Homo sapiens: one gene and its partners. The protein of the gene in region 4 purifies or fractionates together with the protein of the main gene of each other region. This does not show direct contact. Each region holds a gene or a part of one and is shown on either strand. Other genes may lie near its edges.

The links.
Region 1: the proteins of RECQL4 (region 4) and TRIM26 purify together in Homo sapiens (affinity purification with mass spectrometry, with the first as the bait; 2 studies listed by BioGRID). This does not show direct contact.
Region 2: the proteins of RECQL4 (region 4) and MAPK14 purify together in Homo sapiens (affinity purification with mass spectrometry; 4 studies listed by BioGRID and IntAct, with this or other methods). This does not show direct contact.
Region 3: the proteins of RECQL4 (region 4) and SIRT1 purify together in Homo sapiens (affinity purification with mass spectrometry; 3 studies listed by BioGRID). This does not show direct contact.

The regions. Positions count from the first base shown.
Region 1 is NC_000006.12:30,189,403-30,196,426, reverse strand, and holds part of TRIM26 (tripartite motif-containing protein 26), read left to right. Parts: intron 1-6,391; coding exon 6,392-6,414; intron 6,415-6,893; coding exon 6,894-7,009; intron 7,010-7,024.
Region 2 is NC_000006.12:36,100,784-36,107,807, reverse strand, and holds part of MAPK14 (mitogen-activated protein kinase 14), read right to left. Parts: intron 5,238-7,024; coding exon 5,159-5,237; coding exon of another isoform or gene 5,106-5,158; exon of another isoform or gene 5,044-5,105; intron 354-5,043; coding exon 180-353; intron 1-179. UniProt on the Homo sapiens protein: Serine/threonine kinase which acts as an essential component of the MAP kinase signal transduction pathway.
Region 3 is NC_000010.11:67,887,656-67,894,679, reverse strand, and holds part of SIRT1 (NAD-dependent protein deacetylase sirtuin-1), read right to left. Parts: intron 5,799-7,024; coding exon 5,557-5,798; intron 3,279-5,556; coding exon 3,126-3,278; intron 1-3,125. UniProt on the Homo sapiens protein: NAD-dependent protein deacetylase that links transcriptional regulation directly to intracellular energetics and participates in the coordination of several separated cellular functions such as cell cycle, response to DNA damage, metabolism, apoptosis and autophagy.
Region 4 is NC_000008.11:144,514,834-144,522,210, reverse strand, and holds the start of RECQL4 (ATP-dependent DNA helicase Q4), read left to right. Parts: upstream 1-4,377; 5' UTR 4,378-4,426; coding exon 4,427-4,510; exon of another isoform or gene 4,511-4,575; coding exon 4,576-4,609; intron 4,610-4,702; coding exon 4,703-4,797; intron 4,798-5,020; coding exon 5,021-5,161; intron 5,162-5,446; coding exon 5,447-6,223; intron 6,224-6,320; coding exon 6,321-6,447; intron 6,448-6,753; coding exon 6,754-6,885; intron 6,886-6,968; coding exon 6,969-7,061; intron 7,062-7,138; coding exon 7,139-7,275; intron 7,276-7,377. Other genes in the region: LRRC14 (leucine-rich repeat-containing protein 14), read right to left, coding at 733-1,300, 1,389-1,973, 2,157-2,485. UniProt on the Homo sapiens protein: An ATP-dependent DNA helicase which unwinds dsDNA with a 3'-overhang in a 3'-5' direction. Does not unwind more than 18 bp of dsDNA. May modulate chromosome segregation. The N-terminal domain (residues 1-54) binds DNA Y-shaped DNA better than ss- or dsDNA.

The DNA of each region.
Region 1 (7,024 bases), on a different chromosome or scaffold from region 4:
GGCTCAGTTTTGTCATCTGAAACATGGAGATGATAATCCTTACTGCTGCCAATTAGTCTGTAGATTGCATGAGCATAAAATGAAATAACTGGCATGCTGTCACTTCAAAAAATAAACTTTTTACACAAAACTGTTCAAAAAACTAAATGGTATAGTAGAAAATGGAAGGGAAGATTATTAATATCATTTACCATCCTCCATCCTCATCACTGCCATCACAAGCCCTCTTAACAAGTCATTGGCAGACACTTAGCAGCTGGTGGAAGCTTTTTATGGTGTTGTGGTTGGGGGTGGCTGAGGGAGGGCTGACCAGCAGCTCCTCTCAAAGACCCAGAGGATCTGGAAGAGATAGGGTAACTGGGGAAGGGAGACAGAGATGGCCAGGTTTTCTTTGGCCCATGGGATTACCACACAGAGAACAAGATGGAAAGCAGACAAGGGGGCCTCGGGGCACCTCCTAGAGGAGGGGGCTTTGATAGTGAGAAAGGGAGGGTTTGGGGCTGAAGAACTGGCTGTGAAGCTGAAATGGCACCACATCTCCTCCCCCCCGGGAGCCTCTGGGGATCACACTTACCCTGAAGAGGGCCCAGTCCCCTTTGGAGGGGTAGAGGGCTCAACCTTCCTGCTCTCATAGGCTGGGAGGGGAGGGGCTCTCTGATGGTATTCCCCCACTTGCACTGTTTAGGGTGGCTGGGTCTGTCTGTCAGCAGCAGAGCCACCCAGGATCTCTAGGAAGGTGGAGTCCCAGGCTAATGGCAGGGCAATAGCTAGGAGGGAGAGATAGCAAGGCAGACTCTGCAGTATGTGCACTGGGACAGACTGCAGAAGGAGGCGGCCACCTGCTCCTCATTGTTGTGAATTCAGATGTACAGAATGAGGACTGGCAGGGATTTTAGACCTTCCAGTTCAGCCCCTACTGATGAAGTCACTGAGGTCCAGAGAGTGGGAGGAGTTTGTCCCAGGCCATGGGGTGGGTGTCAGGTCACAGCTTGAGCCCAGATGTCCTGACTCCTGGGCTCTGAGCTCTTGTTCTTATTTTGTCCAGAATGTCTCTCTGGCCCCCTCTTTTCCTCCAGATGTCATTCTGTTCTCTCAGATTTCTCTCGTCATACTCTTTGACTGGGTCATTTTCTGCATCTCCTTTTGCCCGTTTCTCTTCTCCTTCCTCTCCTCACGCCCCTGCCATGTGTGAATGCCTACTGTGTGGAACAGAGGCACACAGCTGAGGATGTGGTGGGGCTGAAATCCATTGTGTTTGCCCGGAGGGGTGCCTTTTCCTAATGCACCCAGAGAAGTGGCCCTCAGAGCAGAAGCCTGGCCCTCAATGACTCAGAGCACTCAGATTGCAGCTCTCCCTGGGGTGGGATAAGGTCAAGGGAAGGGAGAGAAAATGGTGTCAGCTTGAAACTAGTATAGGAAATGTTATTGGTACTGGTAGGTTTCTTTTTTTGTTTTGTGTTTTCTCTTTTAATTTTAGTGCTATATAATGTATATATTTATGGGATGTAGAGGTTTTTGTTTGTTTATTTTTGAGACAGAGTCTCGCTCTGTCTCCCAGGCTGGAGTGCAGTGGCGTGATCTCAGCTCACTGTAATCTCCGCCTCCTGGGTTGAAGCAATTCTCCTGCCTCTGCAACCTCTGTCTCCTGGGTTCAAGCGATTCTCCTGCCTCAGCCTCCCAAATAGCTGGGATTACAGGCGCACATCACCACACCTGGCTATTTTCTGTATTTTTGGTAGAGTCAGGGTTTCACCATGTTGGCCAGGCTGGTCTTGAACTCCTGACCTCAGGTGATCGCCTGCCTCAGCCTCCCACAGTGCTGGGATTACAGGCGTGAGCCACTGTGCCTGGCCTAGAGTGATACTTTGATACAAGTATATAATATATAATAATCAACTCAGAGTAATTAGTATATCTGTCACCTCAAACACTTATCATTTCTTTGTGTTGGAACATTCAAAATCCTCTCTTCTAGCTTTTTGAAAATGTATAGTAAATTATAGTTAATTATATTCTCCCTGCAATGCTGCACAACACTAGAATTTATTCTTCCCATGTAGCTATAACTTTGTATCTGTTAACCAACTTCTCCCCACCCTCCTCTCCCCAGCCCCCTTCCCAACCTCTAATCATTACTATTCTACTGTCTTACTTCCATGAACTCAAATTTATTATGGATGAATAGTACTCCATTGTGTATATATGCTACATTTTCTTTATCTATCTGTTGATGGATGCTTAGATTGAGTCCACATCTCAACTATTGTGAATAGTGCCACAATAAACATGAGTGTGCAGGTATCCCTTTGATATACTGATTTTCTTTTCTTTGGATAAATACCTAGTAATGAGATTGCTGGATCATATGGTAGTTCTATTTTTAGTTTTTTGAGAAACTCTCATACTGTTTTCCGTAACGGCTATACTTATATGTAGAAAAACCTAAAGGCCCCACCAAAAAACCCTTAGAACTAATAAACAAATTCAGTAAAGTTGCAGGATACAAAATCAACATAAAAAGTCTACTGCATTTTTAATACACCAATAACAAACTAGCTAAAAAAGACATCAAGAAAGCAACCCCATTTACAATAGCTACAAAAGTAAAATAAAATACCTGGGAATGAAGTTAACCAAGGAGGTGAAAGACCTCTTTAATGAAAACTACAAAACACTGATGAAAGAAATTGAAGAGGACACAAACAAATGGAAAAATATTCCATGCTTGTGGATTAGAATTAATATTGTTAAAATGACTGTCCTACCCAAAGCAGTCTACAGATTTAATACAATCCCTGTTATCAAAATACGAATGACATTCTTCAGAAAAATAGAAAAAAAACTAAAATTCATATGGAGTCACAAAAAACCCCAAATGGCCAAAGCAATCCTAAGCAAAAAGAACAAAACTGGAGGCCTCACACTATCTTACTTCAAAATATACTACAGCCAGTTGTGGTGGCTCACACCTGTAATCCCAGCACTTTGTGAGGCCGAGACAGGCGGATCACGAGGTCAGGAGTTTGAGACCAGCCTGACCAACATGGTGAAACCCCATCTCTACTAAAAATACAAAAATTAGCTGGGCGTGATGGTGCGCACCTATAATCCCAGCTACTCGGGAGGCTGAGGCAGGAGAATCACTTGAATCCAGGAGGCAGAGGTTGCAGTGAGCCGAGATTGTGCCACTGCATTCCAGCCTGGGCAATAGAGTGAGACTCCATTAAAAAAAAAAAAAAAAAAATATATATATATATATATATACACACACACACACACACACACACACATATATGTATATATATATACACATATATATGTATATAGATACATATATATGTATATATACATATATATATATATACTACAAAGCTGTAGTAACCAAAACAGCATGTATTGATATAAAAGCAGACACATAGACCAATGGAACAGAGTAGAGAACTCAGAAATAAATTCACATATTTACAGCCAACTGATTTTCAACAAAGGAACCAAGAACATACAATGGGGAAGGGACAGTCTCTTTAATAAATGGTGCTAGGAAAACTGGGTAACCAACCATACGCAGAAAAATGGTATTGGTAGATTTTGTCTGTGTGCTTATTTGAGTTTGATTGTACTGCGTGGGAACTGGACAGCTACCTCCCTAATTAGCATTAATATTTTCCCAGAGATTATTTGGCTGTCAAAGTATAGTAAGAAAAAGACCTAAAATAGGGTCCAGAAGTCTGATAGAGAAATACAGGTGAGGCTGGTGTGGTGATTCACACCTATAATTCCAGCACTTTGGGAGGCTGAGGCAGGCAGATTGCTTGAACCCAGGAGTTTGAGACCAGCCTGGGCAACATAGTGAGATCCTGTCTCAAAAAAATTAAAATAAAATAGAAATACAGGTGAGAGGGAGAAGCAGCAGGACAAAATGTGTAAAATAGAAGAGACCTTTTGATAGAGGTGATAGGAAAGGAAAGACAAACCTATGGGCTGGGAGCATCAAGAAGACATTAAAGGGATTGGGGTGACAGGAGAGGCCCAGAGAGACACTGCATCCTGCCCTGGTAACCCGGGCAGGCCCTGCAGGATCAGGTGGCATGCTTGTACCCTGCTTCTCCTGCTGTACACCCCCGTGAAGAACTTTCTTGATGCTCTCTCTTAGTAACCGGGCACATCCCCTCCGGGAGCTTGCCATGACTCATTGCCGCAGCCCCACTGCTCGGCTCTGCCTGTTTCATGACAGCTTCAGATGTCTTGGGTGAGAAGAGTCCTCCAGGAGACTTGGGCGGATCACTTCCCTCCAGAGGCCCTGTATGTGGCTGTGGATGGGGGCTCCTGAGTCTTTCAGCCTCTTCTCCTCAGGGCCAGCCCTGCCCTGGCTCTCGGGACCCACCCTCTCTGGGCTGCTCACAACCTTTAACCTTTAGAGGACTCTTCTTTCTCCTGTATGATTCTCTCCCTTTCTACTGTTCTAGGAACTTCCATGTCAGGAAATATGCCCAAATGGGCCTCTGGCCCACACTCCAGCTACTGCTCCATTCATTTGCTCTTTTATGCCACCTTTGTCAGCAGAGCTGTCAGGACACACTGTCTGTTTTGTTGCCTGTCCTCTGAAGCCGCCTTGGACTTACATGTTTTGAGGGGCATGTTAGAGGACTTGGCCAGAAATGTGCTACCAGTCTCTGGGCACTTGCTTCATAGCGGGGGGTTGGGATGTGCCTCTGACTTCTTGTCTTATTCCTCTGGAGTAAAGCTCACAACTCTTCCCAAACTTTTGGAAGCAGTCATCAGCAGCCACAATTTGTTAATTCCATTTGTTTCCCAAATCTCACCCTCTCCAGGAAGCCAGCCTGCACCCCACCGGCCCCTGCTCCCATCCCCCTTCACTCTGCTCTCTTTTCCCGTGGTGCGTATCACTCACGTAGTATGATGTATTTGCTACATTGATTATTGTCTGCTTCCCCCTGCTAGAATGTCAGCTCTACAGAAGTAGGGATTTGTCTCTCTCTCTCTTTTTTTTTTTTTTTTTTTAACTGTTCTGAGGCTTCTAGATGAGTGCCTGGTACCTAGGAAGCACTTAATAAATATTTGTGGAATGAGTGAAAGGAAGGCAAAAATCAATTAATACAGGGTATTAAGGAGGCTTTTGACTCACAAAAGGGAATCTGAGCATGTCAGAATAGCCCTCTTCCCACTCACCCTGCCCTACCACCTGTCTGTCACAGAGATAGCACCACCATTCTCCCCCCTGTACAAACCATGCTCTGTTCTTGTTTATCCTTGACCAGTATGTCCAGTTGAATCTGTCTCTAAAATACCTGGAATGTATTGCTTCTCTCTTTTTCTCCCTACTGCCACCACCTTAGTTCAGGCCATCTTTAGCTCTCCCCTGGTCCACGGCAAAAGCCTCCGGACCAACCTCCCCATGTTCCTCTTGCCTCCTTAGTCCCTTCTCTGTGGGGCAGCCAAGTGAGTGGTCACTTAGGGTTTTGGCTCACTGCTGTACAGTGACGCAAACAGAATAGAAGTTTATTTCTGCCTCAGTTAACAGTTCAGAGGTGCAGGGTCTAGAGCTATCACAGTAGCTGTACATAAGCTTATCCAAGGGACTGGGTTACTTCCATGTGGTTCTTCCACCAGCTTCTAGGGATGTTGTCCTCTGCTGCGTGGTCAAAGTTGGGCTCACCACCACCATGTCCAAAATTCAGTTGGGGTAAAAAGGAAGTAGAAAGCAATTTTCTTTTTTTAAAGGACAATGCCCAGAATTATGGTCATTGCTTTCTATCACATTCCATTGGCTGGAACTTAGTCTCATGACCAGACCTTGTCGTAGGGGATCTGGAAAATGTAGTCTTCCCAGGTGGCCGCCTGACCAGCAATAACTCCGGGGGTTCTATTATTAAAAGGAGGAAGGGGAGAGTGGACTCTGGAGGTTACACAGCAGTCTCAGCCACATGTAGAGCGGATCACACATATCATGCCCCTACTTGAAACCCTTGGTGGGTTTCCACTGTACGTGGAGCAAAAGTGAAACTCCTTACCATGCATATCCAGCCCTGCGCAGTCTGGCCTCTGCCGTTCTCACCAAGCCCTTTCCTGTTTTACCTTACCTCTCTTCATCCGGCCAGTACTTCTTATCCGTCAATTCTCTGCGCAGGTATCTCCCAGAGAGGTTGCCCATGTCATCTCCCAGCCATTGTGGCTTCTGTCATTGTGCCGATTTTGTTTGTTTTCTTGTTGTTTTATGCAGTGACCCCACTGGAATGTCAGCTCCATAAAAAAGGGACCACATTTGTTTTGTTCACTGATATGTCCCATCTCTGCTACAGTGTTGGGTGCAGATGCATTGAAGTCTTATTTGATTCATATTGATACTTGTGCTTTTTTCTTTCCCTTCTAGGACACGAGAGACTTCCTAAACAGGTAAAAGAGTCTCCTCTCCATGGCGTACCTCATCCCCCTTGTTTATGTTCCCCCGCTTCTGACCAGGTGCATTTGAATTCATGGGGAGTGGTATGGTGCCAGAGGTACTCACATCCCATGGTTCATCCTGATGCCCTTCTGAGGAGCAGGACACATCATTGAGAACTGGAGACTTGCTCTCCTCCTTATGGTTCTCTGTGTAGCCCCAGCTCCTTGGCCCACTGGCCTTATTTGAGGTGGGACAGAGCAGAGAGGTTAGAAACATGGCTTAGTAGACAGAGCGCCCTGGATGTGGAGTCTACTGATGTTCTGAAGCCCTGGTTCAGCTGGTGTCTTTGGGCCACTGTTTTTCTGTCACTTGTTTGGGGATAATCATACCTTTCCTCTCCCCTTCATAATTGCCATGAGGATTGAGAGATAAGTATGAAGGAAAGTAAGAAGAGCTGAGTAACAGCTTGTTATGTATGTCATCTTCTTAGGTATCCACGGAAGAAGTTCTGGGTTGGGAAACCCATTGCTCGAGTGGTTAAAAAAAAGACCGGAGAATTCTCAGATAAACTCCTCTCTCTGCAACGAGGCCTGAGGGAATTCCAGGGTAAGGGTTGGGGAG
Region 2 (7,024 bases), on a different chromosome or scaffold from region 4:
TATCTCAAAGGTCCAGAGAGTATCACTGTCTACAACAGTTTCCACCAGAGAACATATTCATTCTGCATTAGAGACCTCATCTACAAGCTTTAGCAAGTTGGTTATGACCATTCAGTTTTTATTTTTCCCACCGCTTTTGGTTAGTGGTTCAAGATGTTAATCCTACCCTTAGGACTTACTTTTCCACTCATCTATAAGGAGGTCCCTGCTTTCAAAGGACTGATCATAAGGATCGGCCACTGGTTCATCATCAGGATCGTGGTACTGAGCAAAGTAGGCATGTGCAAGGGCTTGGGCCGCTGTAATTCTCTTATCTGAGTCCAATACAAGCATCTTCTCCAGCAAGTCGACAGCTATCAGTACCATAGACAGGAAGGAAAAGAGTTTTTAACATGTTACAAAAAAGTATGCCTTATTGAGCAAACATAGTTTTGACCCTTCATATCCAAACAAAGAACTCTCCTCCAAAATACCTACTCTAGGATATATTAGCCCTCTTCTCCTTTATGTGTGTATGTGTGTGTGTGTGTGTGTGTGTATCTGTATTTTCTATGTTTTAAAATTTTTTTATTTTATTTTTGATTTGGGGGTACATGTGCACATTTGTTACATGGGTCTCACCACGGACTGATGGGGACTGGGCTTCTAGCGTGCCCATTAACCAAATAGTGAACATTGTACCCGATAGGTTATCTCTCAACCCTCACCCTCCTCCTGTATTTTGTATTTTTAAAGAATATGTTACTAAAGAAGAATTTTTTTAAATGACTGGGATTCTGTTTGAACAGGCTTTTGTGGACCGTCAATGTCAAACTGCTACCAGTGTAGTCAAACTGTATAAAACAAAGCCTACAGCTGAAGTAACCTACAATAGGTAGGCAGGGCTGTTTTTTTTTTGTCCCCCTAAGCTGTTTATTTACTAACATCAAATATTCATCAACAGATCTTCAAACAGTGAATAAACTGGGGGTTTTACATGGTGATGAGGGTGAGACATGGTATTAAAATCAAAGGGAATTTTATTTTTAAAAATTTCACTATGAAAAATTTCAAATATACAGAAACAGAAAAGTAAAAACTATGATAAAGTGAACACTCATATGCCTAGCATATTCAACAATTAACATTTTTATATTTCTGTATTTATATGTATTTTTTTCTGAACTGTTTTAAAATAAAATTATAGACATGACACTTTACCCTCCCCAAATATTTCAACACGAAGACATCTTCCTATATAATCATAATACTGTTATTATCTCTGACAAATAATTTCTAAATATCATCTAAAATCCAGTTCATGTTAAGATTTCTCCAATTATTCCAACGTTGTCTTTTAGAACTAGTTTGTTGAAACCAGGATTCAATTAGGGGCCATGCACTGCAACTGACTGGTTTTCTTTAGTCTCTCTTAGTCTAGAATAATCTTCTTACTTCTAAGCCCTGTTCTTTCCTGATTTTGATCTAAAGAGACCCTCTGATTGTCCTGAGAATGACCGTTTCTCGGGATGTGTCTGATTTTGCTTCTTTTGCTGTCATGTGTCTATACCCTGCTTTCCACTATCCCCTGTACTTCCCAAAAACCGGAAGTTAGGTCAAAAATTTTGGTAAGAATCAGGTTAAACATTTTCAGCAAAAATACAGGTGATGCTGTGCACGTGACAGTGCATTAAGGCCATCTGTCCCACTACTAATGAGCTAAAATTGATCACTGGGTTAAGATGTTTCCCCTTTGACCAAAGCAAGTAATCTGCGGGATATTTTGGTACCAAGTAAATATCCATTCTTTTCACTTATGGCTTTCTGCATTCACTGGGTTTCCTTCCCAAAAGCAATTATTTCATAAGGGGTTACAAAATGGTAATTTGTCTAACTCTATATTTCAAATGAGTATTTTTGTGTTTCAGCATGGTGGCACTTGGGAGAATAAATACTGCCATATAACCAGTTATCACTGTGGTGAAAAAGGCTTTTGAGACTTTGCAAATTACTCCTTAAATGTGGAGGGTGTGGGGGTGAGTAGTGAAGAGGACAGCTTCCTATAGAGATCTACTGCTGTGTATATTGGAGGCTGTAAAACACCCGTCCTACAGCTTGAATTCCAGAGTAATCCACTGGAGAAATATGGGCTTCAAGGGGATACAGAAACAAAGTAAATATTCATGTGTCAATTCAAGTTCATAAGTTTACACTTTACAGTACTAGGTGAATGCCTGGATTATATATATATATATTCTTCTGATGGTCTTCTCTTCTTAGAAAAAGAAACCTTATCAGCTGTTGATTTTATAATTGAACACAGATTATACGACAAGTCTCTGTTACCCTTAGGGTAAAAAGGACCATGTTCTTATAACCAATAAGGTCAGGGGCAAGAACAAATTCCTCAAAGATCTTATTAGCTGGGCATGGCATTATGTGCCTGTTGTCTCAGCTACTTGGGATAGGGAAGAGGAAGGATCACTTAAACACAAGAGTTCGAGGTTATCATGAACCGTGACTGTGCCACTGTACTCTAACCTGGGTGACAGAGTGAGATGCCATCTCTTAAAAAAAAAAAATCTTGACAGATAAATACATACACTAACATCAAGGGGTAATTTAAGTTTTAATTCATGTTTTGGGAATAGCAGTGAAACAAAGTCAGTGGCTGACAAAACAGAGCTGTTAATATTTATATTTCTGGCATGTTCCTGCTCAGTTAATATGCTGGGCACGAGCTTGTGATAGTAACACTGTGCTCCATCTGCCCAGCAAGGGGAGCCTCATTATATGACATCACTGTTTGGCAATGGGCTGTAAGGCACGTTTAAATGCTGAGAAGTACAGTGCTGAGCACCAGATGGACCAAAGCCTCCTTTCAACTCATTAGCAAAGTGGTATCTAGTTCTTTTGGAGGTTTCAATGTCATGATTTCAAAGAATGGGAAGACCTATCAGGAGGTATGTGACCTAAATAAGCTGCTGGAACACAAATATCTCCCCTCTCCCCCTAAAAAATGAATTAACACATCTTTCTGAGTCTGTTAAGAGGGTGTCAGTGAGTACTGCCCTGTTCAAAACTTAAGGCTTATAAAATGAAACAACTTCAGAACAGAATGACGACAAGAAAGAACACGACGGGCTGGGTGCAGTGGCTCATGCCTGTAATCCCAGCACTTTGGGAGGCCGAGGCGGGCAGGTCACGAGGTCAGGAGATCGAGACCATCCTGGCTAACACGGTGAAACCCCGTCTTTACTAAAGATACAAAAAATTAGCCAGGTGTGGTGGCACACACTTGTATTCCCAGCTACTCAGGAGGCTGAGGCAGAAGAATCACTTAAAGCCGGGAGGTGGAGCTTGCAATGAGCCGAGATCGCACCACTGCACTCCAACCTGGACGACAGAGCGAGACTCTGTCTCAAAAAAAAAAGGAAAGAAAGAACACAACATCTTTTCCCAACATCCTGTAGTACTTAAGGCTCAAAGAGAGCTTCTCACAGACCCTTGAACTAGATAATACAGCTCAAATAAATCACACAAAGCCAATGAGAGCATGCCAGGGCAGATGCAAACCTAAGCCAGTCTCAGTAGAATCGTACCCACCCCTGATGAGACTGTGGATTCATCCTAGGGCAGGAGAGCGACCCAGCTGAGATATGACATACTCTCTGTCTCCAAGGCTGACACGAACTCATCCACAACTGCCCAAAACTTCAAAGAGCGTGAGTATCTCTGCTATTATAAGAATTATCACAGCGACACTAAAATTCCTCTCCATAATCACTATGGATGAAGTACTTAAAAAGGTAAAATCACCTAGCCTTCACCCCAGCTTCTAAAGAGGTCAGCATGGCTGTCAGCCCTCAAAAAGATAAAACTAAACCTGAAGCATAGCTGCCAAGACCCTTAAGAAGACAGATGACCCAAACAGATGCAAAGAAATGCAGTGAGATTTTAAAACACACCACACAATACAATCTTAAGAAAAGTGAGAAGGCAGATTATACTCGTTACCATAGCATAGCTCCCTTCCCTATTGTAGGGAGGTCCTGGTCTGATCCTTCTGTGTCCACCATTAAACAGCACTGTCCACTGTCCTCTTCAAGAGTCAGGGAATGAGCCTCAGGCAAAGCAGCTTTCAGGGGCCATCTGAAGCACACATCACTCCTCCCCTTCAAAGAATATAGTCCGCCAGGCACAGTGTCTCACGTCTGAATCCCAGCACTTTTGGAAGTTGAAGTGGGCAGACTGCATGAGTCCAGGAGTCCACGATTAGTAAGATGGTGAGACCCTGTCTCTACAAAGAATTCTTTAAAAAATTAGCCAGGCTTGGGGATGCATGCCTGTAGTCCTAGCTATTTGGAAGGCTGAGGCAGGAGGATCACTGGAGCCCAGGAGTTCAAGCTTGCAGTGAGCTATGATTGTGCCACTGTACTCTAGCCTGGGTAAAAGAGCGAGACCCTGACACTACCAAAATAAATAAATAAATAAATAAATAAATAATAATAATAAAGCAACTCCTTTTTTAGCCAAGGCAACACATATCTTCAGCTGCCACCATCACTTCCCTCTGCCAAGGATCTTGAAGGCATAGGAAGCCATTCCTTTAAGTTTAGGTAGCAAATAAGCTCCACAAACAGGAGAGGACGGTTATGCCTCTGAGGGCAGAGAAAGAAGAGGAGAGGGGAAAAGTTCATGAGTGTGGAAGACGACAGGATCTGTAGCAACGGCAGCTACCGTTAGAGCAGAGCACCCTGCAGGGAGCTCCTGGGTGGCTCCTCTAAACACCCACCTGCACTTCAGTGGTTTCTGTCCTCCACTCAGAGACACCATAAATCCACAGCAGTTGTGAGCAAGTTACAGCTTTCTTCTGTATCTGCTTCTTCCTGCCTCACCAATCTTTTCTCTCAACATTCCCATTACTTTCTCTCCTTTCTCCACTGTACCTGCCCATTCCCCCAATCCCAAGTTCTGTGATCATTTAAACATACAATCATCTCATGTGATTAAAAAAAAATCTGACAACACAAATAGATAATAAAAGCCGTATTTATCACCTTCCAAGATTCAACTAATGGTACTTTATTTGGTCAAAAGGAGAAACTCTTCTTCAAATCCCCAATTTATATCATAACCAATTCAATATCCATGAGGTGAGGATATATGGTCAACTTACCCAGGGGATTGGCACCAATAAATACATTCGCAAAGTTCATCTTCGGCATCTGAGTCAAAGACTGAATATAGTTTCTTGCCTGAAAAAACAAGGGTTTTCAGAATGACTTTGTTCAATAATGTTACTGCTCTCAAAGAAAGAATCTTGGTCCTGCTAAGGAACGAGTGTTAACTGACAAAGTCCACTAACTTCAGTGTTTCTAACTGTCTTTGATAGAACTTCTCCCTTACTGCCATCCTAACTTCCCTAGTTATGATCATCACCTTCTTTATTCCTGCTATCTCTCACAGTTGCATTTCAAGTGAACGAGAATGCTCATCAATCAAATTCTCTTTCATTAGCTTTCTGATCACAGGATGAGAAGTTTAAAAACTGAGGCCAAGATATGTAAGAAGTAGCCCTGAGACAGCCTTCTCAAACAGCTAAATTGGTAGAGGGGTTGGTATTCCCAAAGCAAGTCTTGGACCAGCAGTCTTTTGACAGTGCTGACTTCAGTAGGTGCTCTTAGTACATCAAAGGATATCAATATTAAACCTTGCTAACAAAGTAACGGTGGTAACAAAAAAGTTAATATAAACTTAATATAACAGTCCTACCTCACAGGGTTGGAGTGAAGATTAGAGATAACAAACCTAGTACTTTCTTAACACAGTACTTGGTTCCAAGTGACAGTTCAAGAAACATTATCTGCTATCCCACTATCACCTTCAGAAGCAAAGTCTGCTGTCTATCTTAACCACCTCTTTAAAACTCCTGTTTTAATACAGTCCAACAGTAAAAGTATGTATGTATATTTATGTTTACACATACACACACAAGTTTATAAAAAGTTCTGGTTGCCCAGGCACGGTGACTCACGCCTGTAATCCCAGCACTTTGGGAGGCCAAGGTGGGCAGATCGCTTGAGCCCAGGACTTTGAGACCAGCCTGGGTAACATGGTGAAAACTTGTCTCCAAAAATACAAAAAATTAGCCAGGTGTGGTGACGCATGCCTGTGGTCCCAGCTACTTGGGAGACTGAGGTAACAGGATCGCTTGAGCAGGGAGATGGAGCCCAGGAAGCTTGAGCCCAGGAGGTGGAGGTTCCAGTGAGCTAAGATCGTGCCACTGCACTCCAGCTGGGGTGACAGAGTTAAGATCCTGTCTTAAAAAAAAAAAAATCTGGTTGCTTGGGCAAGTTCACCTTCTTTATTTATTAAAAAAATTTTTTTAGAGACACAGTCTCTGCTCTGTTGCCTAGGCTGGAGGTCACTGGCACAATCACAGCTCACTATGGCCTCTAACTCCTGACTCAAGCAACCCTCCTGCCTCAGCTTCCCAAGTAGCTGGGACTACAGGCATGTGCTATCATGCCCTAATTTTTAAATTTTTTTGTAGAGCTGCAGTATTGCTGTGTTGCCCAGGATGGTCTCAAACTCCTGGGCTCAACTGATCCTCCCATCTCAGCCTTCCAAAGTGCTGAGGTTGCAGGTGCACGCCACCACACCCAGCCTTCCGCTTCTTAATTATTGCATGTGGAGTCAGGAGGAAAGGTCTGCTTTGAAAAGCAATTGAGAATCTTTCTGATTTGAAAAGAAAGTTTTAGGAATTGAATACATAAATGGCTGTAATCCCTTTCTACTTGAACATGTAAATAAAAAGAGGAAGGGAAAACAGGTAAGAGAGAACTATCTCATTCAGAGAACAGTCATCCCTTTAATAAAGATAAATCAAAAGACGACCTGAATATAGCTGAAGTAGAAACAAAGCTGCTGGGAAGGGCCCTCTGTGATGCCAACCTGGTTCCCCAAAATATTAAGGGTATCTTACAAAGAAAGAAGTGCCCCAATCATCTCTGATAATAAAACAAGAGTTAGACTAAGTAGT
Region 3 (7,024 bases), on a different chromosome or scaffold from region 4:
TACACCTTATAAGTGACTGAATTTTTTTTCAGTTTAACAATAAAAAATGTATTCTCCATAACTAGTGAGTCAAGTTTTTTGTAGTTGATTTAAGATCAAAGTAACTTCTAGTTACTTGCTGGTCTTCTGATAGTGTCAATGTCTGCGCTACGTGGAGATTTTATAAATGCCAGTGTCCTAGCTCCAATTCAAGAAACCTTTAAGTCATACTTCACTGGTCTTCAAAACCATGCAGTAGTGCCACTAGCAGGAGTAGGTTAAAACAGTAAATCTTCACTAATCCATAATTAACAAAAAATAACTTTACATTATTTATTTAATCCAGGTATGAACCAGTTGTCTGCTCTAAAAGCTAGATATAGATGACCATCATCATTACGGATATATGAAGTAAAAAGTTCAAATTATATAAGTTTTAAGTTAAAAATTCTCTTGATAGCCTGAAAACTTTTCAAATTCAGTTTAGTAATCATATTCAAGAATTAATATAATTTTCCCACTTTACACTAATGCCCATTTAATATACCACAACCTGGATAAAACAAAAGTTACATGGGGTGGAGGGGTGTAGTGATTAGGGTCTCACTGTGTTGCGCAGGCTGGTCTCAAACTCCGGAGTTCAAGAGATCTTCCTATCTCAGCTTCCCAAAGCACTGGGATTATAGGCACGAGCTACTGCATCCAAAAAATCACTTTTTTTTTAAAGACAGTCGCCAATTTAAGTAACATAATTTATTCTGAATTAGCAAAGCTTCTCCTGTAGTCATGTAAATATACCACATGGTCTGAAAGTAGATAAGGCCACTGTTTAGTTAAAATTTAGGTTCATCGGCAGGGCGCGGGGCGCGGTGCCTCGCACCTGTAATCCCAGCACTTTGGGAGGCTGAGATGGGCGGACCACAAGGTCAGGAGTTCAAGACCAACCTGGCCAACATAGTGAATCCCCGTCTCTACCAAAAATACAAAAATTAGCCAGGCATGGCAGCACGCGCCTGTAGTCCCAACAACTCGGAAGGCTGAGGCAGGAGAATCTCTTGAACTCGGGAAGTGGAGGTTGTATGGTGAGCAGAGATCACACCACTACACTCCAGCCTGGGAAACAGAGCCAGACTCCGTCTCCAAAAAAAAAAAAAAAAAAGCTAGGTTCATTAACTTCTGGATTCATTAAAGAAGTCCCTATTCACAACTTCTAACGATTAGGTGGGGAAAAAGCCACTAATACAAGACTCCTTCGCTGGAAGCCATCATCCTCAGCAAACTAACACAAGAACAGAAAACCAAACACCACATGTCCTCACTCATAAGTGAGAGTTGAACAATAAGAACACATGGACACAGGGTGGGGAACACCACACACAGAGGCCTGTCAGGAGGTGGGGGGCAAGGGGTGGAAAAGCATTAGGACAAATACCTAATGAATGTGGGGCTTACAACCTAGATGACAGGTTGATAGATGCAGCAAACCACCATGGCACATGTATACCTATGTTAACAAATCTGCGCATTCTGCACATGTATCCCGGCACTTAAAGTAAAATAAAATAAAATGACTCTTTCAAATATATATACCTCCAAGTTTAACAATAACAAATTTTGTAATTTCTTTCCAAAAGACTGAAATACAGGAAAGAAAACAGTTTTCTAATGACTCAATCTCTTGAGAATGGTGTAATGCATTATTAAACTTTCTATGCTAAAGCAGAGCTGTACAATAGGTACATAATGTGAGACATACATATAACTTTAAATTGTTTAGTAACCACATTAAGGTGAAAACTGGCCAGGCGCGGTGGCTCACGCCTATAATCCCAGAGCCTTGGGAGGCCGAGGAGGGTGGATCACCTGAAGTCAGGAGTTCAACACCAGCCTGGCCAACCTGGTGAAACCCTGTCTCTACTAAAAATACAGAAATTAGCTGGGCATGGTAGCGGGCGCCTGTAATCCCAGCTACTCAGGATGCTGAGGCAGGAGAATCACTTGAACCTGGGAGGCAGAGGTTGCTATGAGCCAAGATCATGCCATTGCACTCCAGCCTGGGGGACAAAGGAAGACTACTTCTCAAAAAAAGAAAAAAAAAAAAAGTAAACTTCAAAAAACATACATATATTTTGGAAACACTCTTGCTCTGTTGCCCAGGGTGGAGTGCAATGGCAGATCATGGTTCACTCAGTCTTGAGCTCCTGAGCTCAAGGGATCTTCCCACCTCAGACTACTGAGTGGATGGGTCTACAGGTGCACACCACCATGCTCAGCAAATTTTATTATTTATTTTGTAGAGATGGAGTCTCATTATGTTGCTCAGGCTGGTCTCAAACTCCTGGGCTCAACTGATCCTCCCACCTTGGCCTCCCAAAGTGCTGAAATTACAGGCATGAGGCAACACGCACAGCCCAAAATACATTTTATTTAACCCAATATCAAAAGTATTTCAAAAGAATTCAAAATTAATTTTAAGTATTTTTTCCATATAAAAACCAATATTTGTTTAATATTTGATGAATAAAACTAATGAAATACTTTGTATTTTCCATACTGGATCTCTAAAATCCAATATGTCTTCTACACTTATTGCACATATCAATACATTTCAAGTACTCAACAGCCACATGTGGCTAGTGGCTTCTGAACTGGACGGTGCAACTCTAGAGCAGAATAATGATCCTCTGCAATTTGCTGACAAAAATGCAACCCAAGAATCTTCCCATTCTCTAATTACAAATGATTTTTCAGGCACATCCTTATGTTAAAACTTGACTACGAAACACCAAAGTGATGTTATAACCTTTACAATCTCTAATAAAATATTAAAAATCACAAGTTATGTTACTTTTATATGGTGTGCAAACCTCTTAAAAAAGCCCAGGCAGAATAACGACCATCGCTGCAGTGCAAATTTTAAAAATATGAACTATCTCTTTGAAAATAAGCTCACTCCTAAAATGAAGTAGATAATAGTCCTCCTCTAGGAATAAAGGAATTCTAGCCATAATGAGTGATCTTACTCCGCCACAGTAGCAGCATTCACTTTACTAAACAATGAACGATAACCTTAAGGTGGCTGTATGTGAACAAAATACTTTTTCATGAGAGAAGGCCAAAGAAACAACCAGAAGAGTTCATAGTACCTTTGCAAACTTGAAGAATGGTCTTGGATCTTTTCTGAAATATTCAATATCAAACATCGCTTGAGGATCTGGAAGATCTGGGAAGTCTACAGCAAGGCGAGCATAAATACCATCCCTTGACCTGAAGTCAGGTATTCCACATGAAACAGACACCTAAAATGTGCATGGCATAATTTGTAAAATTAAATCTTCTACCTTTATAGGAACTAGCTAGCTCTCTTACCATATAATTAGGTAAGAGTTGAGAAAGAAAATTTTAGTCTGAAACTTCTTTTAAGAAATAAAAATACAACCCTACCCTTATTTCAGAAATAAAACTCCCAAATAACTGAGTAAAATTAAACATACCTCATATTCCATCTTTAACACAGATAAGGAATTTTTAAGTCAGGCCAATTTTAAGCCTTTTAAGCATTTAGCCAACAAATTAAAGCAAATGCAACTTGAGAAGAAAATAAACCATTTCAACAAATTATTTTAAGTAGGGAAGAATTTTTTCTTTTTTTTTTTGTTTTTTTTTTTTTTGAGACAGAGTCTCACACTGTCGCCCAGTCTGGAGTGCAGTGGTGCGATCTCGGCTCACTGTAAGCTCCGCCTCCTGGGTTCACACCATTCTCCTGCCTTAGCCTACTGATTAGCTGGGAATGCAGGTGCCTGCCACCGCGACCGGCTGATTTTTTGTATTTTTAGTAGAGACGGGGTGTCACCATGTTAGCCAAGATGGTCTCGATCTCCTAACCTCGTGATCCGCAGGCCTCAGCCTCCCAAAGTGCTGGGATTACAGGTGTGAGCCACCGCGCCCGGCTTTTTGTTTTTTTTCTTTTTAGACAGTTTCGCTCTGACGCCCAGGCTGGAGTGCAGTGGTGCCATCATGGCTCATTATGGCCTTAACCTTTCCGGCTCAAGCAATCCTCCCACCTCAACCTCCTTAGCAGCTGGGACTACAAGTACGCACCAGCACACCAGGCTAATTTTTTGTAGAGTCAGGGTCTATGTTGCTCAGGGTGATCTCAAACTCCAGGGCTCAAGTGATCCTCCCACTTTAGCCTCCCAAAGTGCTGGAATTACATGCATGAGCCACTCCACCAGCCAAGAATTTCTATTACAGAGAAGTAATTCCAAAGAAATTGCTCCTTTAGTTAGGATTCTATTACCTCAATACTACAACAATTCTCTATTTTCATTAAAAAAAACAATGTATAGCCAGGCACGGTGGATCACGCCTGTAATCCTGGCACTTTGGGAGGCCAAGGCAGGCGGATCACAAGGTCAGGAGTTTCAGACCAGCCTGGCCAATATGGTGAAACCCCATCTCTACTAAAAATACAAAAATTAGCCAGGTGTGGTGGTGTGCGCCTGTAATCCCAGCTACTCAGGAGGCTGAGGCAAGAGAATTGCTTGAACCCAGGAGGCAGAGGTTGCAGTGAGCCAAGATCCTGCCACTGCACTCCAGCCTAGGCAACAGAGCAAGACTCAGGCCAGGAGAGGCTGAGACTGCAGTGAGCCATGATGACACCACTGCACTCCAGCCAGGGCAACACAGCAAGACCCTGTATCCAAAAAAAAGAAAAAAAAAAAAGGTGTATAATATTTCAATTCTTCATTTCTTTGAGACGTGCCCACTAATCGTACAAAAAAATCCTGACATTTCAAATAGAGATTTCAGAAGTTATTGTTTCATCATCTTACCAGAGTTGACTCCAATTTGACCTGGAGTCAAGGTCAATTTAAGTTAAACAAACTTGTCTACATCGTTATCTGTGAGCAAAACATACTCCTGATGATCATCTAAGATTATGTAACACCCTTTCGCAACTCGAAATGGCAGAAAACAGGACAAAATTTTACTACAGCAGTTGCTCTGGTTGCTAACATGTAATATACTCTGTATAAAACACACACTATGCAATAGTCTTAGGTAACTAATTAGCTGCAACCCTAAGGTAGATCAAATAGAAAATGTCAAGTCGCCACAATCACATCATCTTAATTAATATGGAGGGAAGGTAGGAATCTGTTACTCTTCCCAACACTAAGCTTTTCACTTGTGAATACCAATTAGGTTTCCAGTTTCTCATAAAGATCTAACAAATACCCAATTTCTCCATCAGACTGACATCCCTTAACAAAAGCAGAGTTTCAATTCCCTGCATCTCCTTTAGGAGCTATGATATAATGTAGGTAGAAATCTTGCCTTAACTCCATTTACCCACTGTGCTATAAATAAGCAGAAGCAAATATTTTTTTAAGGCTGGAGAGGTTTTAAAAATCTGAACTAATTTAGCAACTGCTGCTGCACTCAGTTTTTGGCAGTTCCCAAACATCCATTATCATGTAAGGATAAATCCTTCTAAACCAGAAAAATGTTTCCTACTTGGAAAAGGCATAAGAAAATACATATACGACCTCCCCATGTACTAGTCTTACATACCCCAGCTCCAGTTAGAACTATAATTTTTTTGCACTCTTGCAGTAATTTCACAGCATCTTCAATTGTATTAATATCTTTTCTTTTTTTCCTTTTTGGTGGTTCTGAAAGGATATTAATAACAATCTGCCACAGTGTCATATCATCCAACTCAGGTGGAGGTATTGTTTCCGGCAATAAATCTTTAAGAATTGTTCGAGGATCTGTGCCAATCATAAGATGTTGCTGAACAAAAGTATATGGACCTACAATAAGGGGGAAAAGGCTTAAAGTCAACTTATCAAGTAATTCAAAATCTCATTTATTTTCTGAAGTAATGAGTTAGCATTCTGTGAGGGTTTTTTGCAAAGTAAGAAAATGCAATTTAATGGTATTTCATTCTCGGTACACTCAGAATTAATGCTATATCCCAATGAGATTAGGAAGATCTAATGAAGAGTTGGGAAGACCCCCTTCAGCTGTAAGTATATATTTCAAGAGTCTAATTAATTAACAACCAGAATTAAGTTCTTATGGTTAATATCTAGAAACACACACCATAATACCAAAAGTATTTACAAAAGGGTTCTACGACATAGAAAAATCGTACCAGTCCTAAAAGCCTGTACTACTTATCATTAAAACCACACAGGAAAAAGAAATGAAAATCTATACATAACTGCCATCTTAATTTTTTTCCGGTAATTTTTCAATTTGATCTTAACCCATCTTCCAAGATAATACATACAATGTTGATGTTCTGAGAACTAATCATTTTCTTTTACCCTGAGATTGCTCAAACCAGCTCCCTAGGCTTGAGAAAACAAAAATAAATAAATAAATAAATTACAGACACCAAAGAGAAACTGATCTTCACTATGTTTAAATAATCAAGCCATTTGTAAGAGTGAGAACACAAAAAGATCCACTTTCAAGATGGTTATACCTTTGGTATAAAAAACTGATAATGCTTTCTACATCGAAATACTTTCCCATTTCATTCACATATTTATTAAATATTTATTGAGCACAAACTATGTGCCAGGCACTTTTTTAGGCACTGAAAAGACAGGAGTATACAAGTCAGTCAAAAATTCCTGCTCCCGTAGAACTTATATTCTAGACCAGGAAACAACACAATTTAAAAAGTAAGATACAGAGCTTTTCAAGAAGTGGTAAGTGTACAATAAAGTGAAAAAACAAGGAATATGAAGTGAGGGAGGAAGATATTCTAACCGGATGAAGAACACTACACAAAAAGGGGACAAGTGAGGTGGGGCAAGGTGGCACATGCCTGTAATCCCAGCACTTTGGGAGGCCCAGGCGGACGGATCACCTGAGGTCGGGAGTTCAAGACCAGCCTGACCAACATGGAGAAACCCCGTCTCTACTAAAAATTCAAAATTAGCCGGGCGTAGTGGCATATGCATGTAATCCCAGCTGCTGGGGAGGCTGAGGCAGGAGAATCGCTTGAACCTGGAAGGCGGAGGGT
Region 4 (7,377 bases):
CAGTAGGATCTTGGGCCTCCGAAAGGTGGGAAGAGCAAGGACTGGCCGGCAGTGCCGACGGGGCTGCCCCGCGAAGGGCGGGGCGACAGGCTGGATGGCAGTTGTTGCCGGGTGGCCATGTTGGGGGTGACAGCAGAGATAAGGATAAGGGTGACCAACGTGGACAGAAAAAAAAACAGCCACAAATTCAACTTCCAGGCACATGTGTACCTTGATGACCCCCTCCAGCCCGAGCCCAGCCCAGTGGGGTGGCTGGGTGGCAGGGTAGGGAACACGTAAGAGGCGTGAGTGCCTGGGGACTCCCAGCTTCCCTGAAGCAGGCCTCTGTCCAACTTCAACCCCAGAAGCACTGAGCTCTCAGTAAAGGGAGAGGAAAGGCCCAGAGAGGCCATCATCTCTCTCAGCTCACAACTGGAATCCCAAAGCATTTGCACAAAGGACCAGGACCCCAGACGGCAGCCAAATGCAGCCAAACTGAGCAGGGCAATGGAGGCCTGACATCCAGCCCCGGGGCCCACAGATGATCAGCCAATTATGGAGCAAGTGCAGGGAAAACCGCGTGGGGCACTGCAGAAAGCAGGGGAGGCTTGAGGTGTGCCCAGAAGCAAGGTAGACCCAGCAGGAAACCAGTAACCAGTGCTTTTGTGAAGGCCTCCACCAGGGGTCCCAGCAAAGGCCCTGCCTACCTAAAGAGACTGCAGGGCGGCCTGTGTCTCACCCAGAGCTACTTCATCATAGGCTGAAGTAGTCCGCAGCCAGTCGCCCGTAGATGTCCGTGGTCCAGAGCACATGGGCACGGCCTGAGGCTAGAAGCAGCTGGTGCAACTCAGCTTCTACGCGGGCAAACTTCTCCTCATTGATGGAGGCCTCCAGCAGGACAGAGGCAGGCGGCGGCCAGGGCAAGCCCTCATAGCAGTCCACAGGGAAGGGGTGCACCACAGTACGCAGCTCAGCCTGTGCCACTGAGTCCCGCAGCAGCTCCTTGAGGCCCGCCATGGACAGTGGGTTGCCATAGAGGCCAAGGTACCGGAGACTGGCGCACTGAGTCAGGATGGGTAGTGTGGCCAACAGCTGGGTGTCTGCGAGCTGACACTCAGTCAGCTCCAGATGCAACAGTGTGGCTGCTGATGCCTGCAACAGACCCTGGAAGGGTGCCAGCTGGCTGCCAGACAGGTCGTTACCACTCAGGTCCAACTTCTTGAGGTGGGCAGCATGTGGGCTCCGTGCCAGGAAGCGTAGGTCCTCAGGCAGCAGAGCACAGAAGGCCAACTCCAGGCTCTCCAGGGGGCTCTGCAGGGTGCTACAGGGGACACAGGGGTCACAGACAGGCAGAGCCAGGGAGGGTCCCTACAGAAGGGAGGGGCAGGGCAGTGGTGGGGCCCGCTCACCTGAGCAGCTGGTCCAGCCTCCCTGAAAGGAGAGAGGAGCCCATGCTGAGCTCACGCAGACAGGTGAAGCGGCCCATCTGGGCAAGGAAGTAGCGGAAGTTGTCCTCGCCATCCACGGAGGGCTGCCTTGAATCCCCATGCACATAGTGGAGCCGCAGGCTGGCCAGGTGCTGGAAGCGGGCCACGTGTGGGATGATCACAGACAGGCCGCGCAGGCCCAGATTGTTGAAGCGCAGGTCCACGCGGCGCAGGCAGCCTGCATCCAGAAGCTGCAGCAGGGCCACAGTGTTGCGCATGGGCAGGTCCTCAGCTCGCAGGTCCCGGCAGCAGAGCCGCAGCGGGCTGCCCACGCTGCTTCGGAGTGCCTCCCGCAGGAACGCATAGGAGGCCCGGTTCACCCGCAGGTCCACGCGCACCTCCACGGGGATGGGGGCTGGCCCAGGCTCTGCGGCCCCACCCTGCTGCTGGGCAATGCATGTGCGAGCTACGGCAGCAGTACAGTCCCACATGCTCATGGTGCCAGGATCCTGTTCCACACCATCATCCAAGAGGCCCGTCATGTCCAGCACCCGCAGCGCATGCTTCCTGGGAGTAGGAATGGTGTGAGGAAGGGGTGGAGGGGCAGCGCCCATACCCCCTCCCAGCCACCTTGGGACAGGAGCAACGCGCCTGCTCCTGCATGAGCTCTTGCTAACTTTATGACCCAAGCCTCCTCAGGGGACCCACTTACACACCCCTGGCCTGACGACCCTCCAGATAAGTCCATACCTGCAGAGGGGCTGTGTGCTGGCCCCAGGCTCTGAGGTGTGGAGCCGGGCAGTCAGCCCCAGGATAACAGCCTGCATGCTCTCAGTGCTAGGCCGCTCCTGCAGGAGGGCACGGCTGCAGTGGGCACACTCCTGTAGCAGCTGCTGGAAACTGAGCAGCGGGAAGGGCCACGTGTGTACCAACTCGCGCAGTACCACTGTCTTCTTGTCCATGAAGGCCACCTTGAACAGCAGGGGGAAGAGTTCGCGTGGCAGCAAGGGCAGGGCCTGGCAGGCAGCTGGCTGGCACTGCAGCACCTGCCGTGTGCTCAAGAACACAAGCGTGTGCATGGTGCTGGGCCGGGCAGACGGCCACCTGCAGGAGAGGGACTTCAGCAGGGAGGAGAGACCCTAGGCCACTACCAAGCCACACACAAGTGGTAGGAAGGCCCAGCATAGTGCCTGAAACAAAGTCAGCAGTTAGCAGTGGCCATGGCACAGAGAAGCACCTATTAGATGCCTAGCGCTGGGCTGGGTGCAGTGAACTGGCAGACAAACTCACAACTCAGCCCCAGCCCTCCAGATGCACAGGATCTCTTTAGAGAAACTAAGCGTCAAGCAGTGTGGCATCGTCAACAACTCGCTTGCTTGGGTATGCTTTTGACAGATGCCTGTTGCCTTGCAGGGCCCCCCATGGGTACTTCAGGCCTCTCAAATTACAAAGCTGCTTCACAAAACCTTCTTCGAAACCTGAATAAAGCCCAGGACTCTCCCCACCAACCTTCATCAGCATTAGTATTGACGGGACACTCTAAGGAGTCAAGCAGCCAAATCACCTTTCCCTCCCCTCTCCTCACAGATGCTCTCCAGGGCTACACTTGGACTCCACAAAACACCAAAGAGCTGGAAGCACAGAAGCAGCTTCATAAGCAACAAGGCAGGTTGAAAAGACCGAGACCCAGGGAACACCGAGTCCAGATGATGTAGCCTATAAAATACAAGCCCCCGCAAAAGCTACTATTCTCCAGAGCGTCACCAAGCACGGAGACCCCGAAAGAAAGCAACCCTCACCTTTGTTGGCCCTTACCACTGGCCTAAACCTCTCCCTCTTCCCTGGAGAGCCACTGTGGAAAGACCAAGTCTTAAGTATGTGGGATTCAGAAGGTGCAAAGCTACAGACTGCTCAGACAAGGCAAAGAAAGCTGCCTCAGCAGCACCCAAGCTGCAGAGATGCACAAACACTCCCAAGGCCACAAGGTACCTGTGACACAGGGTGCCAGCCCTGCTGCTGCCTGTAGCATCCTCAAAACTAAATCGCAGCCATCTCCCTGTGACAGATTAGAAAATGAAGGCCTCGGCCTGGCCCAAGGTCACAGCCTGAGTGACAAGCCAGGGAAGGGGGCCGGGGAAGACACTCTGGCCCCAAGGCCCTTCTTTTTGTCGACTTTTCCACATACAAGTAAGTCCTTAAGGCACCGGTTCCTGAAAAGTCCCAGACACCAACCCTCGGCCTAGTTCTGCCGGTGGACAGATCTCAACGATCATACTCGCTCTGACAGGACAGACCAACCGAGCACTTGTCACGGGAGAACACCAAAGCAGACGGCCTGCCCACCAAGGGAGGCAGGCACCTCCGTGCGACGCCCCCTCCCCTCCCGCCGGCCGCAGGGAACGCGACGGTCCTCGGTCGCCTGCGTTTCGCGAAGACGCCCCCGCCCGGCTCCTCCGGGCCTCGAGCCGCGGGAGGCGCTGGACCCTCCGCTCTTTCGCCTCCCGAGCGGGGCCTGCTCCTCCAGGTCGGATGCGTCTCCCACCAGGGCCTGACGCCGCTCCGACCGGCCCGGGGACTCCCAGTCCTTCCCGGCCCGCGGTGGCACCTCCCAGGCTCCCGGCCTCGGCCCCGGGCTCCCAAATGCAGCCACTGCCTCCCTCGGCCAGGCCGCCCCGAGCGACCGGTGCCCCGCCCCTTGAGGCCAGGCAGGGCCAGGGGCGTGCGCCGCCCCGCTCAGACACCCCCCCGGCCGCCCGCGCTCACCGGTCCCGCAACCGCAGCCACCGCCTCCAGCCCCGCCTAGACCGTCCGCCGCTCCCCGCCCGGCGCCGCGGCGCCCCGCGATGACGTTGACGCCTCCCATTGGCTGCTTGTCCGAGGCCCGACGGACTGGCTGCCCAGGGGCGGTGGCCCCGCCCCCGGCCCGCCGCGCATCCGCATTGGCTGTCGGCCCCCGCGACGGCTGCGCGGGAGATTCGCTGGACGATCGCAAGCGCGGAGGCCGGGCGGGCGCGCGCGCCATGGAGCGGCTGCGGGACGTGCGGGAGCGGCTGCAGGCGTGGGAGCGCGCGTTCCGACGGCAGCGCGGGCGGCGACCGAGCCAGGTGCGGGCTGCCCAGGGGCCGAGGGGCTGAGGGCGCGGCCCGCGGCTGACGCGTTCCCTTTACAGGACGACGTGGAGGCGGCGCCGGAGGAGACCCGCGGTGAGCGCGCGGCGGGGCGGCGGGGGCGAGAAGACACCGGGTCGGCAGGGGCCCAGGCCCCACCCTGACCCCGCCTCCCGCTCGCCCACGCAGCGCTCTACCGGGAATACCGCACTCTGAAGCGTACCACGGGCCAGGCCGGCGGCGGGCTCCGCAGCTCCGAGTCGCTCCCCGCGGCGGCCGAAGAGGTACCCAGGCCCCGCCGCCCCAGCCTCCTCCCACTTCCCTGTTTGGCGGAGTGGCGGGAGCCACGGAGTCGCGGCCAGGCCGCCGTGGGGCACAGAACTTGGGAGGGGGACTGGGCAAAGTGAAGAAGGGCCGGGCCTCGCTCCAGGTGCGGGAGGGGTGGCTGGGAGCGCTTCTGCCGCCACAACAGCCTTTTCTGGCCTGTGCCCCTGTTGTCTCCTGCAGGCGCCAGAGCCCCGCTGCTGGGGGCCCCATCTGAATCGGGCTGCGACCAAGAGTCCACAGTCTACGCCAGGGCGGAGCCGCCAGGGCTCGGTGCCGGACTACGGGCAGCGGCTCAAGGCCAATCTGAAAGGCACCCTGCAGGTGAGGAGTGGGCAGGCAGTGAGTCCACGCTAGGTCCACAGCTGCTTCCGGTCCGGGTCGCCCTCTTGTCATTTTTTCCACACAGACAGGCACGGGCCCCTGTGCCAACCAGGGCACGAGTCTTCAGGGAGCTTCTCGGGGCCTTCGCCCTTGACTCCCTTTCTAGTCCAGCCTTGTGCTAATTAGCCTGCTCTACAATTGAGCGTGGGGACTCAGGTAGGTTTTAGAGTCTACAGTAGCTCAGGGGCCTGAGTTCCTCCTGCTGTTCTGTTGTTCCCCTCCCAGGCCGGACCAGCCCTGGGCCGCAGACCGTGGCCTCTAGGAAGAGCCTCATCTAAGGCATCCACCCCAAAGCCCCCAGGTACAGGGCCTGTCCCCTCCTTTGCAGAAAAAGTCAGTGATGAGCCTCCACAGCTCCCTGAGCCCCAGCCAAGGCCAGGCCGGCTCCAGCATCTGCAGGCATCCCTGAGCCAGCGGCTGGGCTCCCTAGATCCTGGCTGGTTACAGCGATGTCACAGTGAGGTCCCAGATTTTCTGGGGGCCCCCAAAGCCTGCAGGCCTGATCTAGGCTCAGAGGAATCACAACTTCTGATCCCTGGTGAGTCGGCTGTCCTTGGTCCTGGTGCTGGCTCCCAGGGCCCAGAGGCTTCAGCCTTCCAAGAAGTCAGCATCCGTGTGGGGAGCCCCCAGCCCAGCAGCAGTGGAGGCGAGAAGCGGAGATGGAACGAGGAGCCCTGGGAGAGCCCCGCACAGGTCCAGCAGGAGAGCAGCCAAGCTGGACCCCCATCGGAGGGGGCTGGGGCTGTAGCAGTTGAGGAAGACCCTCCAGGGGAACCTGTACAGGCACAGCCACCTCAGCCCTGCAGCAGCCCATCGAACCCCAGGTACCACGGACTCAGCCCCTCCAGTCAAGCTAGGGCTGGGAAGGCTGAGGGCACAGCCCCCCTGCACATCTTCCCTCGGCTGGCCCGCCATGACAGGGGCAATTACGTACGGCTCAACATGAAGCAGAAACACTACGTGCGGGGCCGGGCACTCCGTAGCAGGCTCCTCCGCAAGCAGGTAAGACAGCGACGGGCCAGGACAGGCATTCCCTTTCCCTCCCCTCAGCCCTCCCGTATTTCCCGCCCAGTGACCCTCCTATGTGGGCACCCCCCAGGCATGGAAGCAGAAGTGGCGGAAGAAAGGGGAGTGTTTTGGGGGTGGTGGTGCCACAGTCACAACCAAGGAGTCTTGTTTCCTGAACGAGCAGTTCGATCACTGGGCAGCCCAGTGTCCCCGGCCAGGTGAGACATCTGCCCTGGAGGGTGGGTCCGGCCAACACTGTGGAGAGGGCGCAGTGCTCTTTTGGGGGACACTTATGTTCCAAGCAACAGGCCTTCCAGGTACCCCTGGTCCAGGCCCTACCCTAGCTCCCCTGAAGGAGGGTGGCAGGGACGACGATGGCTGTCACTCTTTTCTGCTTTGGAAAAAGTAGCCCAGAGGAAGGGCACTGCCTGCTGCCAACCCCCTTTGGGGGAAGGAGAGGTTGTGGCCAGTGGTTGTCTTGCCCGACCTGGAGCTCCCATTCTACCCTCTCCTGCCTGCCCCAGCAAGTGAGGAAGACACAGATGCTGTTGGGCCTGAGCCACTGGTTCCTTCACCACAACCTGTACCTGAGGTGCCCAGCCTGGACCCCACCGTGCTGCCACTCTACTCCCTGGGGCCCTCAGGGCAGTTGGCAGGTGAGCAGTCAGCTTCTGGCCCAGAGCCTTCACTGAGGGGTTGGGGTGACTCAAGTCATGGTGATCAACATCTGTGTCTGCAGAGACGCCGGCTGAGGTGTTCCAGGCCCTGGAGCAGCTGGGGCACCAAGCCTTTCGCCCTGGGCAGGAGCGTGCAGTCATGCGGATCCTGTCTGGTGAGCGTGGCTGCCAGGGCTGAGGCTGGGCTGAGGCCAGGCTGCAGAACCCTGCTGCTGACTCCCGCCCCATCCAGGCATCTCCACGCTGCTGGTGCTGCCTACAGGTGCCGGCAAGTCCCTGTGCTACCAGCTCCCAGCGCTGCTCTACAGCCGGCGCAGCCCCTGCCTCACGTTGGTCGTCTCTCCCCTGCTGTCACTCATGGATGACCAGGTGTGCACACAGGGCCCTGGGCACACGTACACAGCCAAGAACCAGCACTTGTGACTCCCAAGGGCAACTGCTGCTTGTCCCCTAACCACCCCCTCCCCTGGG